Linked DNA regions of Homo sapiens. The protein of the gene in region 1 purifies or fractionates together with the protein of each later gene. This does not show direct contact. Each region holds a gene or a part of one and is shown in the gene's direction. Other genes may lie near its edges.

Region 1 (3,500 bases):
TTGAGGGGCCCCTGAATGAGCATCCCCCAAAGACATGCTTGCTTGGCTGCTTCCTCTCTGGCCACACTGAAACCTGTCCTCAGCCTGCCTTAGCTGTTCCCCAGGTGTGTGGAGTGCAGGCTGTGGGCCACCTGACACCTGCAGAATGTGGTCTTCGAGAATGCAGGTTTTCGAGTTCCTGGTGGCTCTGCCTGGCCTTGGTGGACTGGACCCCTTTCCCGGCTCCCCACGTCGCTGACCCTCATGTTCCTGCTTCCTCTGCAGCAAGAGTGAGCCATGGAGCTACGTGTGGGGAACAAGTACCGCCTGGGACGGAAGATCGGGAGCGGGTCCTTCGGAGATATCTACCTGGGTAAGTGTTCCTAGCTCCAGCTGGAGCCCCTGGGGCCAGCCCATGGGACCAAGAGGAGGAAAGACCCCAGGATTTGGGGATCTGAAGTCAGAATGTGGCTCCAGGGGCATGATTTGCCCCAGGGCCATCCCAGATGGGGAAGGAAGCAGCAGGTTGCCGGGAGGCAGGCCAGGGGGCTCCTCTCGCAGGCCAGGCTGGGCACTGGAGGGTATTTTTAGCTCCAGTTTCTGCAGGAGTCATGCGGTTCTTTTGTGCCTCAGTGTCCCGGGTCAGCTGGGTCACCAGCTGGGTGTGGGAAAACCCAGGCGGGGTTCACATCCTCTCCCCTGCTTCCTGGGAGAAGGATATTGGTAGATAGAAGGGACTTGGGTTGCTGCTGGACCCCTAGCCAGGCCCCCCTCTCTATGTCCTGGCCTCCTGGAACCCAGCCCAGGCAGGCTTTGGGATGACGCAGGCTCCCCTGTAACCTCGGGGGTGGGGTGGGGGGATGCGGTCTCCTCATTAGGGAGTTCTCTCTCTCTCTTTTTCTCTCCGGATGTGCTTCCTGTTGAAAGTATGAGTATGCTGTGATGTTGCATTTTAAACAAATCACTGACCTCTCAGTCCTCCCCTTGGCCTGGGAGAAATGAGGCTTGCGCCTTTCAGTGCCACTTCTGAGGGGCACGGTCATGAGTCTTGGCCCTTCCTTTGTGCTTATTGGTCCAAAGGGAAGGTATTTAGTGTTGGTGCTTGTGGATTAGCGGGTGGAGGCTTGAAGTTGCTGGAGTGAGGTGGCCAGCCCTTCTACGAGTTATCCTCATTCCTGTCCCTGCACCCTCAGAAGCAGGCTAGACACACCTCTGTGCCTTGGTTACCCTCCTTGGAAAATGAAAATCAGCTCTGTCCAGTGCAGAGAACACCAAGTCTGTGTGTCGTGTCCATCAGCTCAGAACTTCGGGGTTTCTGTTACCCCATGGTTAGGGTTCCTTGGAGTATGAAATGTGCTAAGGAAGCCTCAATGGAGACGGGGACGGAGACTGGGAGTTCCCTGACCACTTCCTTGCAGGGTACTTTCTGCAGCCCCTAGAGATAGTACCAGATTATTTGTTTGGCACATCAGGAAACTGAGGCACAGATGGTCAAGTTGGCCTCCCAAGACCGCTCTAGAAAACTGGCAGAAGCAGCCTGTATGCCCACAGCCCTCCACATGAGTGAGAGCGTGGAAGACAGAACATGCCGAGGGAGACGTTAGACGTCTAGCTCTGCGTTCTAGACGTGGCTTTGTGTGGCTGTGGGAAGGTCATGCAGCTCCTCTGTGCCTCAGTGTCCCCATCTGTAGTTTGTGATAATGCTGCCTGACTGACCAAGAACTGTTCCAAGGCAGAGATGAAATGACAGATGGGAAAGTATTTTGTAAACTCTAAAGTGCCAGCCAGATGTGCAGTTCATTGCTGAGTGCTTAGTAGATGAGCCTCCCCTATGGACACCCTGGAGCTCAGAGGGAGGGAGAGTGTGTGGTGCAGCTGGTTTAAAGGTTTTTCTCTGCGACCCCAAGCTACTCCCGGGGAGGCAGGCATTTGGTAATATCTGCTAGTGCCCAGCGCAGTGGGTGTTCACTGAAGGCTAGTCAAGCAAACCAATGAGAAAATGGGGATTGTGACATGCACAGACATGCACAGTAGCCTCACAGCAGAATAGAAAAATGCCGGGATGGCCAGGTGCGGTGGCTCACACCTGTAACGCCAGCACTTTGGGAAGCCAAGACAGACAGATTGCTGGAGTCCAGGAGTTCGAAACCAACTTGGGCAACATGGTGAGACCCCATCTCTACAAGAAAAATATAAAAAGTAGCTGGGCATGGCGGCACGCGCCTGTAATCTCAGCTACTCAGGAGGCTGAGGTGGGAGAATCACCTGAGCCATGGAGGTTGAGGCTACAGTGAGCTGAGATCACACTCCAGCGTGGGTGTCAGAGTGAGACCATGTCTCAAAAAAAAGGAGGCCAGGAGATATGGCTCACACCTGTAATCCCAGCACTTTGGGAGGCCGAGGCGGGCAGATCACTTGAGGTCAGGAGTTCGAGACCAGCCTGGCCAACATGGTGAAACGCTGTCTCTACTAAAGATACAAAAATTAGCTGGGTGTGGTGGCACATGCCTGTATCCCAGGTACTCTGGAGGCTGAGGCGGAAGAATGGCTTGAATCTGGGAGGTGGAGGTTGCAGTGAGCTGAGATCGTGTCATTGCACTCCAGCCTGGGCGACAAAGCAAGACTCCATCAAAAAAAAAAAAAAAAGAAGGAAAGAAAAGGGCTGAGATGTGGGGGCCAGTCCAGGTTCAGATCCCCAGCGTGTTCCTCATTTGCTGTGTGACCTGGAGTAAGTCACCATATCATTCTGAGCCTCAGTCTTCTCATCTGAAATGAGTGTACCCAGCTCCTTACTGTTTGTGAAATTGGAGTGGGTGTAAAGGACCCTCGTATTATTGAAGCTGTTGGGCTGAGCACTGAAGTCTGGAGCCACTGGCTGGAGGTCAAAGGGCATGGAGACAGCTCTTGGCACAGACTTGTTCCTAGACAGCGCCCATCCCAGGTCCCGTCGCTCTTTTTGCAGACAGGAGACAGGCCCATGGCTGGAGCGGGGACAGCCCAAGATCACTCAGAAAATCCAGAATCTTGTGTGGTGGGACCTCCCTGGGGACAGGACTTCCTGTTTATCTGCATAGTCATCTCATTCATTTTAAAAACTAAGTACAGATTTACTCCTCTTTGTACTGGCTCTAGAGTAAATTCGACCTAGGTTTGGGTGCTGGTTCTTCCTTTTGTGAGCTGTATGCGCTTGAGCAGGTGATGACCTTGTCCATCCTTGGCTTCCCCATCTGCAAAATGGGGTCGTGCAAAGTAATGAGGTCGTGGCGTGTAAAATACCCACGTGTGCTGGGCCCAGCAGTAGTGCTGTGCGCTGCGCCCCCACCATTGGTCTTAGTTTCTAGTTCGGAGTTGATTTCGAAGGGTCTGGGTCCTCTGGGTCTGAGTCTGGGGAGGCGAGTCAGACTCCTGACTCTCCCATCTTCACTGGTGCAAGGGCCTCAGGGGACCCTGCCCTGACTCACCATCCTGCCAGCACCCTCCTGGGCCCCTGTCTTGTTGGTTTGGGGACAGTGGTGATTGTA
Region 2 (2,596 bases), on another chromosome or scaffold:
TGAGAACTTTCACTTTTATGACAAAGAGAAATAGTTGAAGGAAGAGGGAAAGTGAGAGCAGGTTTGGGAAGGCACTAAGGATGGAGGCAGGAAAAAGGCTCATGGGCTTCTTCCTCCCCTCATGTCTCCCTCCACCTGAATCCCGTTTGTTCCAGACTGGAGACAATGGCAACTGTCTTCTGAGAAGTTTCACATTATTTCTCAGAGCAGGGGTACAGTCCCACAGAAGCTACCCCAGTTTTTATATGGAATTGGCAGTCACCAGCACTATAAAGATTTTCTTTACTAATGTACTTCCCTAGACCCAAAACAGCACAGGCCTCTTTGAAACTGCAATGCAGAGACTTACTGCCCGGCTACCAGGGGTGGGGTGTATGAGGAGAACAGAGTTGCCTGGGCTTTCTCCAGATCACCGGAACAGTGTCTGCTCATGACCTTAGCCCCTTCACAGCTCCCCACCTCCCAGCACTGGTGTTCCCACTGGAGGAGACCAGCAGGGAAAGCCACGACAGAGTGTGAACACCTGGTCAGTGGGGCGGTCCTCTGACTTCCTGCAGAAGTCCCTTGTTCTGAGACCAGTTCTGCAACTTCTGGAAGATGTGGAAGCAGGAATTTAAGCTGTGCTTTTTCTGCTGAAATTTATAAGGATTCATTTTAGGATTTCTTGAAAGATTCAGAAAACTTGAGACGAACAAAGGTAGGTTTTCTAAGTGAAAGAGAAAACAAATATATTTGGAGGTTTTTGTCCTCTTGGTAGATAGAGATTTACAACTTATAATAAAAGTGTCTCAATTATAATAGAACTAAATACGTTTATAAGTTTCTTGCCCCATGGGGTAAAGATAATTGCTTTTCAAAACTGAGACTATCACAACTGGGCAATGACTCGTATAATCCGCACACAAGTCCTCTGGGGAACCCATGAGCAGTAGTTGGTTGTACATGGGTAATTTTGGTATTCTGTTTCCCAGAGCTTAGTTTATGAAAATATCTCTTTTATCTGCTGTGATGTAGTCATCTTCCTGTCTTTCAATTCATCAAACTAGGGACTTGTCAAAATTTAGATCTTTCTGGTTTTCTGTTTTGCGTAGAATATATAAGTTGCTGCTTTTAATACTGGCATAAATAACTTGTCCTTTGGGAAATTAGGCATAAAACATTGCTTAATTTCAAGGCAAAAATGTTCGGACAATTCCACAGCTATCTTCACATTTATCCTTGACACAAAGAAAAAAGAAATACCTGTAGAAGCGCATCGAAAGCTCCTGGAACAGAGTTGTGTCTCATATTTGCAAAGATGCAGAAAAAATAAACCCGGGACATCCAGCTTTCTTTTCCTTTCTTCTTTGACTATTCTGAGAAGCTATGCGACTAGGAGCACATTTTAGGTAAACACGTGGCTTGAGTAGCCATAAGGCCACTCTTCCCTGTCGTGTGACCCGCGCCTGGGCCTTTAAGAGATATTGGTGTTTGAAAAGGGAGGAATCTGTTTGCCCTCAGATATTTAGTTCAACTGCCTGCATTGCTTCCTATTTTGTTGTCCAACTCTGTAGTAGTTAGCACTGGCCTTACCAACATGTAAAGAAATTTTCTTTACTGCCCCATGAGTAGTTGGAGGCAAAGAGAAATTTTTAAAGCGCAGAAAAAGGCCTGCAGGGAGATGGAATTTGTTCTGCCAGAGAAACGAGATGATAGCTGTATTTAATAAAGTTACTGACCTCTTGTCAAAATTTAAAACGCAAAAGAAGATGTTTCAAAATGCAGAGAATGTCAGAAAACAAAAACTACAGGGACCAGACCAGTATAATGTTTAGTTTTCATTATACTAACTTTTGTCTAGACTGGAGTTGATTCACTATTTTTTCTTTAACTCCTCAGGAAGCAAACCTTCCCGATGATGAAGACTTCTTGAAGGATTTCATGGGTGATTTGGGATCCCAGGACCATTTGGCTAGTGTGCCTAGGTGACCACATGATTGCTGTTTTACCAGGAATGCAGCATCCCATTGACAAAACAAGTGCTCTGAGAAGGTTTAAAATACTACAGAGAATATGGGAACACAGACCTTGAAATTTAGCTGAGTTGTAACAGCTGAAACTCCAAGAGGTGTCTTCCTTGTTTGAGGTGAAACTAGTGTTGCTTCCAGAGGGCAGCTGGAAACCGTAAAGCTGTTTGGAAATCTTTTTGACTGACTTGCTGACAAAGAGGTACTGTGATGCATTTTAACAATATCTAAGTTGATTTTTTTTTAAATCAAGGAAAATAAAAACCAAGCATGAATGCTATGGTATGTGCCCCTTTTGACCATCCTGGGCTGATTAACATCATTTAAATCAAAGTAATCATAAAAAGGCATATTCTACTTCAATTATGTGGTCAAATAAGAGTAAACACACACACTCACACATGCTGACCCCAATTGCCAGAGCATTACTGCACTATAAATTACGGTTAATTCCCAAATTATACTACTGTTTATCTTATTTAACAAGTCAGAAAGCACTTTTAAAATAACTTGAGGGCTACAAGGTCATTCTATTAATGTCATTCTCCATTCGGGTTGTAGGCATGTGGAAGTACCCATTAAAAGATAAG
Region 3 (4,247 bases), on another chromosome or scaffold:
TGTTGGACCTTACGTTTCAGCAACCTCACCATGGCCACATAACCCACAACCTTTTAAAACAGTTTCTTTCATAGCAATCCCTGTTTCTGCCAGACAGATCTAAAATGGGAGTTTCTCACTGTGTTTATCTGATCTGCACACTTTATATCCAGCTGTTTTGGCACTTTTACGTTTTCTTCACCTTTGGTTTTGGTTTGCAAATTCTTACACCTTCTCTCCAAGCGGAGGGCACACTGTGGTCAAAATCACTTATTTTATTAGGAAAAAGAGGTAACTGTTCCAAAGTGTAGTGTCCTTTGTTGAAGGAGGAGGGATGTAAGCATAGATTTGTTCTTGTTTCTGGCTATTCTCAGCTCAAGCCATGTTTAATTCATTCTTTGTAAAAGCCTTCAATTGTGCCACAGAAAACCTGGTAAGAGAATTGTCAGTTTCATTGGCCATAAGTATGTAATGTGGGTGATGTCTTGCCATTGAGGTTTGGAAGCTCTTAAGTGCCGATTATGGATTACAGAGGGCTGATAAAATTACTTATATTGGGAATTGAGAGAAGCCCCAAAAAATCAAATGTGCTTTTGATGGATAGAGTGTATCTTATTAGCATTATGGGAGCTCCTTAGAGGGCTGTCTTCACTGAAAGATTTAATGCCCAAAACATTTGGACAGATTATGCAGCCTTCTACTACCAGGTTATCTTGAATGAAGAAGAAATAGTAAAAAATAATAATAATAGAGCATTACCAATAAGCTAAAAGTTCAGAGTTGCTGATAGATGTTAAATGTTAAGTTATCCTGTGAGCCTACTCCTGTCCAACCTTTTTTCTCAGTATTTCTTTAGAGAATGCTGCAATCTGTATAAGTTACTCTGAAGGATTTTTTAAGAAGAGAAGCCACCAACAGGTGATAATTTTTATGGAGATGTTTCTTAATTGGCTTTCCCTCAGTTCAAGTAGGTAAATAACTTTGTTTGCTGGGAGGAGGTACATGGCTGAAGAGAGGCAAATAGATTAAGATAGCAATGTCTTGCACTTCCTGTTTCCCTCAAAACAACACCACATTGTGGGGCGCAGGATAGATCAGGGTTGAGTGGAATTTGGAATTCAGGTGAAGTGCTTGTAAAGTGCATGTCTAGCTGACAACAGACTTGACCATTAATGAGGACAGTGTTGGTAGGAGTCAGAAAAGAGCTTCATATTCCCCTTTTATATTACTGAAGCAATAAGCAATCTGAGCTGAAGCAGCAAAAAGAGTCACATTTCCATCAGGTCATCATATTCCCTGAGTCTCTGCAGCAAAAGCCATGTCAGAGGGGAGATTATAACTAGGTAACTATAACAAGCACTTGAGCACTTACCATGTTCCAAGCACTATCACCAAGGTACTGTTGGGGTTTATGGCAGTCTAACGGTAAGAAAAATGTGGTAAAATGAGGTAATCATGCTGCTATAGCTTTTTGCTTTTTTTCATATAGTATCAAGTTGGTCAGAATTAGCTTTCTCTGACTGGTCTGCTTCCGTGTTTCTCTGTGATGGTGTTAAGATTATGAAAGAAAAAGAAGATTACCTAAGACTGCTACAAGTGTTAACTATATGCCCTTAAGAATGAGCTTGACTTTGGAAGTAAAGCTTTTCAGATCTTAGTCTACCCGGGGCCTTTGTTGATGGGTCTGTGGTTCTGTAGACCCCTGGCTTTCACTGTGTTCTCAGAGGTACACCAGATTGAGAGCAGAGTTCTTCTTTGGAAGTCCCAGAGCAAAATAACTGCCATCAAGTGAGTTTGCATTCGTATTTGTTTCCCCTTCCATAGAGGGTTAGTTTTAGTTACCTCTAGCTTGGAGTTCCTGAGAAGGCTGGTTATAGGACTGAGCGTGGGAAAGGAACCCTCTTCAGGATTACCTCAGTCCCATCAGTCTACCCCATTGTGACATTGAGCCCAACACACACGCTTGACACCAGACTAGACTTGTCACAGGGCCAAACCCAACAGCCACATGCCATAGCTTCACTGCATTTTCAGCTACACCTTTGGAGGCCACCTTCTCCTATCAACTGTGGAAAGCCAGAAGGGCTCCCTTCTCCATTCTCCTTCCCTTTTTCAAGTCTAATAGTGAAATCTCCTGCTTACCCCAGCAGTAAATAGTTGCCTTCCTACCCCTTACCTGGGGGCCGATAATTTGAGATACTTTGTTTTTTCAATGCGTCAGTTGAAGGATTTAGTTTCTTAAAAGCAAGAAATGTTGGAGTGTTGAATTTTTAAATAGAATCTCTTTTCATGTTTGAATGATTGTTATTAGTTCTAGAAGCATTCTCTTTGTCATGACCCGATTATGTATACTCTTGGGTTTAGGAAGGACAAAAGTGATGAAATTTGCATGAGATAGAATAAATATCTTAGGAGGAGTGAAAGAACCTGAGGAAGAGACACGACCCTAAGGGAATGAATGCATAAGCAGTCTTCTCAGTAGCCCAGAGTTTCCAGGAAACAGGAATATTTATATCCCTTGCCCACTCTTAAAATACATAGATACATAAAAAGGCAGTCTCTGTAGACAACACATGCACACACCCACACAAAACATAATTCCTGGGGCTTCCTTTTTCTGAATGTTAATCCATTTTATCGAGCAGTGATTCCCAAACTTTGAGATTTTCAGATTTTATGCTCTCGTCTGTTAGATTTTATGACATTCTATCATCCTAAAAAATGTACTATATGTGTTATATGTATATATAAGTTAAAGCAACTTGAAATTGACTTGGTTTGGCATTGTCTCAAGAACCCTAGATATCATTATTGATACCATGGGGAATCATAGAAATAAAGTTGAATATCATTGATCTGAGAGTAGGATCCAGAAATAAGTAGTTTCAGTTCCTGATCAGTTAAGCCTCAAGTGTTTGAGTAACCAACACAGCAAGACTTGGGAAATGCAGTGAGCACCCGAGGAAAGGAAAGTGGTAGTCTTTGCCTGCATTTCAGCATGCATTTTCCTTTCCTACTCAGTTGCTATCTTCCACTTAAATACCCTCATTTGACCCTAGGAAGTTTTTTGTTTTTTTTTTTAGTTTGAGACTTAAAACCAGATTTATTTGTTGTTGTAGAGAGATTTCCACAGAAGTTGTGTTTTAGGGACCTCCATCATCTTTGTGGGGGTACAGATATTTATGTGTAAATATCATTTTATGTGATTTCCAAATTTTCGAGGGAAACATTTCAATTCCCAGTTCAACAAAAGGTTAAATACTAATTGACTCAATGACCACCTTCAGGAAAGTTAAATAGTAAATTAGGTTAAATTTTGACTGGTGCTTAGACATTTCCTAGTTATATTAACTTAAGCAGACAGCAGCACATTAACCTGAGTTACACCTGTGAGGAAATGACCTTCTAAATTTGATTTTGTTTTTCATCTCCAGGGCCTTAATAAGAGTGTGTTAACACACGACTATTTTACAATGATAGCTCTAAATAATTTATTTTTTATTTCAAGAAAGAGAAATACACCTTAGAAAAACAAAACCCAAGATTTTATTTTATTTTTAAAGCCATATTTTTGTGCTAGTAGCATTTAGATTATTCCGTATGTGAGATCCGTATCAGCATTTCATTACCTGGGTTTGTTCTAAAGAAGATTTATTTTTGTTCTGTGAATAATTTTTGACAGTTCTTGTACATGTACAGATATAGATACGTTTGAGGTCTTTTATTGATATTCCTACAAAGAATACAAATAAACTTTAACTTTAAACATTTCAGACTAAAGTTGCTACTATATTTGACATATTGCTGTCTTCTAGCATGCACCTGGGTGACTAGGACACTTGAAGAGAAACAAGAAAGGAAATGTATGCCGGAATATTCTTCTAAAAATATATTTTAACATTAAGAACAGTCTGTCCTAGAATTTCCCAACTTCCATGTAATAAGATTTCAATTTAGGAAAAATAACTAGCATTAGCATGTATTGTGATAAAACTGTTACTTTCGAATTCTGCAGAATTTGAAATCTCTTTAATAACTTGTGACAGGTAAAGAAAGTTTCATCTGGTTTATTAGGAAATGTAGCCCCACTTAGCTTCCTAGACCACTACCATCCTCTTGTAATTTTCCAGTTAGATTAATGGGGTTTGTTTTCAGGATTTTTGATGTTTGGTTCAGGTTTTTTATTTTAATTTCTTAATAGAAGTTCATTTGTCATTCCCAACATGATTGTTCCCAAATACACCCATCTTCTCCTGCATCCCTGTTTC
Region 4 (3,500 bases), on another chromosome or scaffold:
TCTGGCCTTAATTTGTATATACTAAATAAAGAACGTTTCTGCTTTCTGCCTATGGACACTAAAAGTTGTTTATAATGATGTCAAATGACTATTAATATAAAATCTGGGCCGGGCACAGTAGCTCACGCCTGTAATCCAAGCACTTTGGGAAGCCGAGGTGGGTGGAGTACTTGAGGTTAGGAGTTCGAGACCAGTGTGGCCAATATGGTGAAACCTTGTCTCTACTAAAAATACAAAAATTAGCTGGGCATGGTGGCGTGTGCCTGTAGTCCCAGCTACTTGGGAGACTGAGGCAGGAGAATCACTTGAACCTGGGAGGCAGAGGTTGCAGTGAGCTGAGATCGTGTCATTGCACTCCAGCCTGGGCGACAGAGTGAGACCCTGTCTCAAAAATAAATAAATAAAATAAAATAAAATCTGTAACTTGGTGATGTATGTGCTTTTTTTTTTTTCTTTTAGCTAATAGATCAGTTAAAGCCCGGAGGAAGATTGATATTGCCTGTTGGTCCTGCAGGCGGAAACCAAATGTTGGAGCAGTATGACAAGCTACAAGATGGCAGCATCAAAATGAAGCCTCTGATGGGGGTGATATACGTGCCTTTAACAGATAAAGAAAAGCAGTGGTCCAGGTGGAAGTGATTTTATCTTCTGCTCTTTCTTCTTCCACACATGCAAGGTGAAAGGGTGTGGATTTTAAGACATTAGACTACAAGAGCTGTTTTTGGTTGTCACCTTTATGCTCCTCCATTATAACGTCAGAAATTCATTACATTAAAAATGTGAAAAATGTTGCATGGTCTGCCCTTATTTTGGTTTAACATATATATCTTTGGGAAAGGGAGGGTGAGACTTGGTTGGCACAAAGGCTTTTTTTGTTTGTTTGTTTGTTTTTTTTTTAGAGAGACTTTCAGCTTCAATTCAGTACTTTGTAAGGATTTTTTCTTCATTATCAGCCACTCTGTTTTTATGTTTTTAAATTATTTTTATAGCACTGGATGGGCATGGAAACAATGAGTTTGGTCTGTAAAAGAGGCCAGGCGGAGTGGCTCATGCCTGTAATCCCAGCACTTTGGGAGGCCTAGGTGGGCGGATCACTTGAGGTCAGGAGTTTGAGACTAGCCTGGCCAACATGGTGAAACCCCGTCTCTATTAAAAATACAAAATCAGCTGGGCGTGATGGCACAGGCCTGTAATCCCAGCTACTCGGGAGGCTGAGCCAGGAGAATTGCTTAAACCCTGGAGGCGGAGGTTGCAGTGGGCCGAGATTTTGACACTGCACTCCAGCCTGGGAGACAGAGCAAGGCTCTGTCTCAAAAAAAAAAAAAAAAAAAAAAAAAAAAAACAAGGGGCCATCATTTCCTGCCCTGTTTATTGTACCAACAAGGAGAAAGAAGGGGAAAGATAACGGTCGTCTCAGTTTTCTAAAATGTCAGAATACCAGAGAGGACATTCTACCTCTCAGCTTGGTTTATCTGTTTCAACCAAATCATAGATACCTGACAGCCCATGCCTATTTTTCATTCAGCCTTGTTTAAGAGTCACCTTCTCCCCATTCTATAGAATAGGCCAGCCACTGTTTAAGCTATTCTGGCTAAATTCCTAGGAAGAGGCAAGGATTCTACAAGTTACCCAATGAGTGCCCAGGTCTCACAAACCCACCCAGAGGGTCAGCAGCATGCAGCAACTTTCAGCACAGCATGGTTTATAAAGAATGTCCACTTTTGTTTTATGTCTCAGCATAATCTGAATATTTTGTTTGAAGCCAAGATTTCTCTTTTCCTCCCCTTCCCACTCCCTTCCATGAGAGAGAGTGACATCAGTACATAACAGTGCCATTAGCTCAAATTACTTGAAATTAAATGCCAAAACAAGAACGGCTTTACAGTTTCCTTGTCTTAGCATCTTATTTTTATTTGACATAAAGATTCTTATTTTAAAATAATTAGTTTCTTAATAAGTAAAAGGGGTGATAATAAGTTTAATAGATCTCTCAATGTTGTTTTTATTCTTCACCAATAGCTATTTTCTGTGAATTATACGTGGAGCACAGCCACTGGAAAAAAAAAAAAAAAAAAAAGCATTTTAGTCCAGGCATTTTGGGAGGCTGAGGTGAGCCAATCATCTTAAGTCAGGAGTTTGAGACCAGCCTGGCCAACATGGTGAAACCCTGTCTCTACTAAAAACACAAAAATTAGCTGGGCATGTTGGCTTGCATCTGTAGTCCCAGGCACTCAGGAGGCTGAGGCAGGAGAATTGTTTGAACCCAGGAGGCAGAGGTTGCAGTGAGTCGAGATCACACTACTGCCTTCTAGCCTGGGTGACAGAGCGAGACTCTGTCTCAAAAAAAAAAAAAAAAAAAAAAATTAAAAAGGCATTTAAAAAATTACTGGTTTTTTCAACTGGAATCAGATGTAGTTATTAACAACTAACTAAAACCTTCCTTCACTTTGCTTCTAGTATGGTTTATACAATTACATAATTGTGAGATTATTGTAGTATAAAAGGGGCAAATATGTTACTGAAATTACTGAAATTTGATAAGAAGAGTTGATTTTCATTAGCAACTTAGAAATTTTTCTTTTTATATACAATAAATATTAGTGTTGAACATCTTGCCTATAATTTATAATTTATAATTATGAAGGAATTATAAAAAGGGAATTTTGTTTTTATGACTAGAGGTAGATTTACTGTGAAGCTAACAAAGCTGAAGCTGCAGAGCCCTTGCTTGTCTAGGTTTTCTCTGACCCTGTTCTTAATTTAATTTAATTTAAAAAAGTGTTTTTTTTGAGACGGAGTCCTGCTCTGTTACCCAGGCTGTGTAGAGCAGTGGTGCAATCTCAGCTCACTACAACCTCCGTCTCCCAGGTTCAAGCAATTCTCCTGCCTCAGCTTCCCAAGTAGCTGAGAGTATAGGCGCCCAGCTAAATTTTGTATTTTTAGTAGAGAAGGGGTTTCACCATGTTGGCCAGGCTGGTCTCGAACTCCTGACCTCAGGTGATCTGCCCGCCTCGGCCTCCCAAAGTGCTAGGATTACAGGTGTCAGCCACCATGCCTGGCCCTGTTCTTAATTTTATATTATGCATAGTCTTACTGATTTTTTTTTTAACTTCATAAAAAGGTTCCCCTGTTTTCTAATTATATAAACCTTAGGCCCCCACAAAACCTGAATCCACCTTTGATAAAACCAAACTATTTGTATTAAGAAATTTAAAATAGGGCCAGGTATGGTGGCTTATGCCTGTAATCCCAATGCTTTGGGAGGTTGAGGTGGGAGGATCACTTGAGGCCAGAAGTTCAAGAGAAGCCTGGGAAACATAGTGAGACCTCGTATCTACTAAAAATTTAAGAACTAGCCAGGCGTAGTGGTGTGCACCTCTAGTTCTGGCTACTTGGGAGGCTGAGATAAGAGGATCACTTAAGCCCAGAAGCGGCAGTGAGCTGTGATCACCACAGCATTCCAGGCTGGGCAACAGAGCAAGACCTTATCTTTAAAAAAT

Evidence for each region. Proteins that work in one complex are often made in the same cells at the same time.
Region 2: the proteins of CSNK1E (region 1) and FAM110C purify together in Homo sapiens (affinity purification with mass spectrometry; 3 studies listed by BioGRID and IntAct, with this or other methods). This does not show direct contact.
Region 3: the proteins of CSNK1E (region 1) and RASAL2 purify together in Homo sapiens (affinity purification with mass spectrometry; 3 studies listed by BioGRID and IntAct, with this or other methods). This does not show direct contact.
Region 4: the proteins of CSNK1E (region 1) and PCMT1 purify together in Homo sapiens (affinity purification with mass spectrometry; 3 studies listed by BioGRID and IntAct, with this or other methods). This does not show direct contact.

Annotation. Positions count from the first base shown.
Region 1 is NC_000022.11:38,310,934-38,314,433, reverse strand, and holds part of CSNK1E (casein kinase I), read left to right. Parts: intron 1-264; 5' UTR 265-276; coding exon 277-352; intron 353-3,500. Other genes in the region: TPTEP2-CSNK1E (casein kinase I), read left to right, coding at 277-352.
Region 2 is NC_000002.12:40,910-43,505, reverse strand, and holds part of FAM110C (protein FAM110C), read left to right. Parts: intron 1-440; coding exon of another isoform or gene 441-547; exon of another isoform or gene 548-697; intron 698-1,200; exon of another isoform or gene 1,201-1,388; intron 1,389-1,878; coding exon 1,879-1,898; 3' UTR 1,899-2,596. UniProt on the Homo sapiens protein: May play a role in microtubule organization. May play a role in cell spreading and cell migration of epithelial cells; the function may involve the AKT1 signaling pathway.
Region 3 is NC_000001.11:178,475,104-178,479,350, forward strand, and holds the end of RASAL2 (ras GTPase-activating protein nGAP), read left to right. Parts: 3' UTR 1-3,747; downstream 3,748-4,247. UniProt on the Homo sapiens protein: Inhibitory regulator of the Ras-cyclic AMP pathway.
Region 4 is NC_000006.12:149,801,741-149,805,240, forward strand, and holds part of PCMT1 (protein-L-isoaspartate(D-aspartate) O-methyltransferase), read left to right. Parts: intron 1-459; coding exon 460-639; 3' UTR 640-676; exon of another isoform or gene 677-791; intron 792-1,384; exon of another isoform or gene 1,385-2,053; intron 2,054-3,500. UniProt on the Homo sapiens protein: Initiates the repair of damaged proteins by catalyzing methyl esterification of L-isoaspartyl and D-aspartyl residues produced by spontaneous isomerization and racemization of L-aspartyl and L-asparaginyl residues in aging peptides and proteins.